Linked DNA regions of Homo sapiens: region 2 is linked to region 1. A link means that fine-mapping ties the variant in region 1 to the expression of a gene that starts in the linked region. Tissue or cell type: testis. Region 1 holds a variant in brackets; the other region holds the start of a gene. All regions are shown on one strand. Distances are between the middles of the regions.

What was found. PIP is the estimated chance that this variant, and not a neighbour inherited with it, causes the effect.
Region 2: OR4K1 starts here. The variant in region 1 is the best candidate, but not a certain one, in a credible set for the expression of OR4K1 in testis (GTEx, PIP 0.76).

The regions. Positions count from the first base shown.
Region 1 is chr14:19,955,972-19,958,667 of GRCh38, reverse strand. It overlaps the pseudogene OR4K16P. Among named protein-coding and RNA genes, the nearest start is that of OR4K15, 18 kb to the left of the region's middle. The variant AC/C (reference allele first, on the strand shown) is at 1,135.
Region 2 is chr14:19,929,622-19,932,317 of GRCh38, reverse strand. It overlaps OR4K1 (olfactory receptor family 4 subfamily K member 1), which reads right to left and starts at 1,401. Exons shown (of 2, transcript NM_001004063.3): 1 at 1,173-1,401. All of the region lies in intron 2 of LOC124903278 (a long non-coding RNA gene), which reads left to right.

The DNA of each region.
Region 1 (2,696 bases):
CATAAACAGAATAAACTCTTCAAGCTCGAATTATATGGTGCAGTGATGACAGTGCCAGATTCTGTGGCTGATAAAAGACTGAATCAATCATGCGATGACCCTCTTTCTCTTATTCTTTCCAACGTTTGATGAGCAATTTCTGAAGTTTCAATTAAAGTTTGAGAAGAAGAGAAGCATGTGATATATTTTCTAATTAGCAATATATATATTTTCTGCAACTACTTTGAAAATTACACTCCCAAATGAAATTAACTAAAGAAAATCACTGGCTATTCAGATACCTTGCAGTCATTGTCAATTGATGACAGGTTATTATTAGTGATATAATGAGGTTTGTAATTGCTCTTTCTTCCAGAGAGTGTAAGAGTAGTCTTGTAATTTTAACTATGAACTTGGTTATATTTATAGTCCTGTAATTGATACTGTAGCATTTTATATATTTAAATTCTAGCACAAATAATAAGTATGACAAAAGACATGTTTGATAAGCATTAATGCCTTATTTGTGAATATAAAATTTTACCTTTATAACAATAAGGTATTAGCCAGAATAATTATGAACTGTAACTGATGAGGTAAAGCAGCACTTTTTAGAATCTTCATATCGCCTTTTATTTCAAAGCAAATTCTGTTTTAACTCAAATAATGCTAAATTATTCTCTATGTTACCCAGAGTGAATCACATGAACTAGCTAATCTTCTTTAATATAGAGCTGATTTTTAAATGTTGCAAGAGATTTTTTTTTGACAGGGTCTCACTGTGTTGCCCAGGCTGGAGTACAGTGGCACAATCTCGGCTCACTGCAGCCTCGACCTCCTGGGCTTGAGTGATCCTCTTACCTCTACCTCTCAGAGATAATTTTTTATGGTGCCTGTTTAAGAGGAAAAACTGCTTATGGGTTTTAATACTTGTAGATGCAGCTTTAGGGAGGATGATGTGAGACACAGAATATAGGAACTGGCATCATAAGATTCTGCACTGTGTTTGCCAACTCCAGATCACCATATTCAGGCCCTCTAATTTAGTCTAGTAAAAAAACTATTTGTGATACAAACACAATAATAATAATCACATATGTTAATTTCAAAGCCCAAAAGTAGGAATTTGTATTACTTCTTTGTAGTTGTCTAAAA[AC/C]CCTGCTTGGAACCCACATGTCATCTCCTTAGCTTCCTCATGGCTTCCTTTATATCTTTATTCCTCAGAGTATAAATCATGGGGTTAAGGAGAGGAGTGAAGACAGTAAAAAAACACAGAGATAAATTTATCAATTGGGAAGCTTTCAAAGGGCCAAATATAGATGAATATTAATGGGCCAAAGAAGAGAAGCACAACAGTAATGTGGGCAGACAGAGTGGAAAGGGCCTTGGACATCCCATCAGAGGCTTGGCGATGCACAGTAGCAAGGATGATAGTGTCAGAAATGAGCAAAAGGAGGAAACACATAAGTGAGAGCAGACCACTGTTAGTGAGCACCAGTATCTCAAAACCATAGGTGTCTAAGCAGGCAAGCTTGATCACTAGGAGGAGGTCACAGAAAAAATTGTCTACCCTGTTGGGTCCACAGAAAGGCAGATTGACTTTGAATGCCAGGTGGGTGGCTGAGTGTGAGATGCCAATGGCCCAGGAAACCCCCACCAGAACAGTTCACACCCTCCGGTTCATGATGGTCATGTAGTGCAGAGGTTTGCATATAGCAATGTATCTATCATAGGCCATGGCAACAAGAAGCACCATCTCACTACCCCCAAAAACATGCAAGAAAAAGATTTGTGACATGCATCCCTGGAAAGTGGTGGTCTTGTGTTCGTTGAGGAAGTCTGCAATCATCTTGGGAGTGGCAAATGTAGCCTGACACACATCGATGGAAGAGAGATTGCTAAGAAGAAAGTACATTGGGGAATGCAAATGAGAGTCTATAATTACTGTGATGATGATAAGGATGTTTCCCAACACTGCAGCTCCATAAAACACAGAGAAGATAAAGAAAAAGAAGACTTGGAGTTCCCAAGAGCTAGACAGCCCCAACAAATTGAATTCAGTAACCACTGATTTATTACTCCATCCATTAACTGAATCTGAGCTGCTGAAGTTATCTAGAGGGAAGAAAAGATAATTAAGATGGATTAAGAATAAGCTTTTTACCATTTTGCAAATCAAATAGATGCTTTGATTCTAATATAAAAATAAAATGGTGAGGCTATAAGACAAAGAGTATTCACATGATTGTTAGGAATTAATATTTTCCCTGGGCTCACTTAGATAATTATATGAATTATTATTTACTTTTGCCTTTATGCTTTGCAAGATAGATAGATGGATAGAGAGAGAGAGAGAGAGAGACAGAGAGAGAGAGAGTTTTTATCTAACAGATAAACCTATATAGAAAGAGAGAAATTGAGAGACAGCAATATTTGCCATTGAATTCTAAAATGTTTTTGTAGAAATGTGCAATACCTTAATAGAACTTTGAAAATCATACATACTGTACTTACACATTCAGATTATTAATAGTTGAAAATGAGGAGTCTAGCACCATTTACAGAATCTTGAAGGGACAGGCAATTTAGGCCAGGTGTAAAGATATGGAAATCAGTCCAGTTACTTTGATAAATGACAACAAATAAAGGAATGGCATGAGGCCATGTATTTGAGGTGTCTGCAGCAATAAGAATAGATTGAAATTAATTTGTAACAA
Region 2 (2,696 bases), 26 kb after region 1:
AGAAGGAGAAGGAAGAAGAAAGAGAATGAAACATGATTAACAAAAAATTGTTAAATAATGTTAGTGGAATTATTCCTTTTTCAAAAATCATCTTATCTTTGAAAAATATACTTTTGAAAATATCCAAATTTCCCACAAATTATATCTTTTCAATATCTAATAAATGATAAGGTTTTTAGTCTTAATTTTTCAAAATATAGGAAACAACTAGAAATTCCTCTCCAAACTAACTTCCTATGATTTTTTAAATGCAAGTAGAACAGATCAGGTTCAACATTATATCTCATTTTCTTCTTAATAATTAAGGTAGTTACCCAATAGTATAGACAAATAACATTTGCTACTTGCTGGCTGTGTGACTGAACTTAAAAGATAGAACTGGATTATCTCTAAAGCTAGTTTCATCTCTAAAATTCTAAGTGCAGAGGCAGTTATGGAAACACATGGAGTTTATAAAAGTTAGCATTCCTTCAGCAGTCCACAGAGCACCCAGAAGCTTCTTCATTATTGAATCATTCATTCTGTCATTGCCACTATACCTCAGAGATAGGAGTGTTTTCAGATCCCAAAATACACCATAAGAAAATTTCCCTATTCTTGGTGTAAAGCCAAGTTGGATATGAAAGGGTTGCTGTTGCATTAATATCTACTATACAATGTGTCAATGGAACTCTGAAATCATAAGCATGAATAATTTTTTCTTGTTTTTATTTTAATGTATAATACTTGATTACCTATAAGCCTAGAAGCAAACAATAAAGGATATACTACTGACCATTACTCTACTGTGTATAGCTACACTTTTCTTCATTTGAGGCAAATTTTGGTAGTCAATAAACATTTGTTAAACTAATGGCTACAGAGTCACTGAACAGAAAGCATAAATGGGTCAGAGAAGGGACAGATAATGGTTGTAACATATGTTCCTCTGTTTATCAGATTCTGATCCTCTTCTTACCAGGGTTGCCCAGAAGCAGTGCAGTGGAAGAATGATATAGACAGAGAAGTGGAGAACAGGAATATTCTTCTTCCAGAGGGAGTTTTCAATTTGTCTGAGACAGCAATAACTTCCACTTTGCTATCTTCTAGTTGCTGTTTTTGCATCTATAAGAGATCTCATTAATTATTTCTCCAGTGCAACAATATGTTCACAATGAATGTATAATACTTACACTTTGAAAAAGTTGTCCAAGTCTTTCACTTCTTCCTTATTTTCCCAGTTTGGTGTCCTCTGGTTTGTTTCCATTTCCCACTTTCTGCTATGAGTCTTCATACTGAAAATATTTGTAATATAATCTTAACTTGATGCATTTTAACTTGGTTCCCTACACTATGCCGTATGGAAGGAAGCCTCTCAGGTCCTCAGGTCCTGTCCTGATGTAGTGAGGGCTCTGATCACCTTGCACTCAACCGAGCAATTACAATAACTTAAGGCAATACAATATAAAGCCTTTCAACCTCATTCTAGAAAACTGATTTCATTGGTGAAGCAAGAAAACACCCTTTAGAGATCTGAGGTCACTTTCCAGTGGGAGTAATTATGTTTTACAAAATAATTTTCCAGAAATGGAAAAGAAAAAAAGGTTTGTTTGTTTGTTCGCCAACTAGTGTATACATATGAAAGCAAAAGATTACTTGATTTTAACTGAGTATCAGTCAGCAAAGGAAGTATTCAGGTATTCAACTCCTAACTCTCTGTTAATAAAACAATCACACAATCTTAAAAATTATCACCTCGCCTCAGGGTGTTTCCTCCAATCACAAGGAGCCCACTGCTTCATAAGACAGTTCAGTCTGTGCTCCACTGTTTCTACCATTTGTAATTTAAAGAGTAAATCTATTAGCACTTCAGTATTATGTTTCTTCAAATATTTAAAGAGGCTCTCATTTATTCCCTATATAAATTTCTTTCCCAAAATACATCAACAGTCTTTTTCAACTATATTTTATATAAGTTTTCTAGATCTCCACAGGTTCTGATGTAAGTTTCAAGTGGTCATCTTTAAGTAAAAAAATTGAAGGTAAGATTCCCTATTACTTAGTGTTTCTATCTTCCTATCTATCCTGTGTGCATGTGTACACCTTAGTAAAACATTCACATATATAAGCATTTGAGCACAATGGCACATATTGCAGCACTGGCTGAAGGAGAGATACTGGAAAAAACCTAAGTACATATATATATATAAATTTGAGAGTGGGGAAATATAATATTTTAGTGTGATGAAATACATTCAATAATTAAAATTGTTAAATAATATTTTGTACATGAATATGTATGGTTAAAAACATAATGTTGAGGGAAAAAAAGTTAAAGATTGTAAAATTATGTTCGAACTTTTATAAACCAAATCAATGGACACACTTATGAATTAAAGTTTTAAAATATCCAGACTACAAAGAAAAATTCAAAAGCATAAAGCCTAATTTAGCATCTTAAGGGAGATATACAATGACAAACAGACAGTTAAGGGACTATCACAATAGTAAAATAATGTTAGATTTCAGCAGCAATGATTCAGGGAAGACCCAGTGTCAACAAGCATTTGTTTTTACCAGACAAGCATAATCTTGACTGTTTTTCGTGCTGTCTGGCTTCTAATGGTTCTGCTCATTTTATGAGGCTGCTTCTCTAAATGTACTATCAAATATGCAGATAATGCCAAATCCTCCTAATAATTCCATTTTGCTCAGGA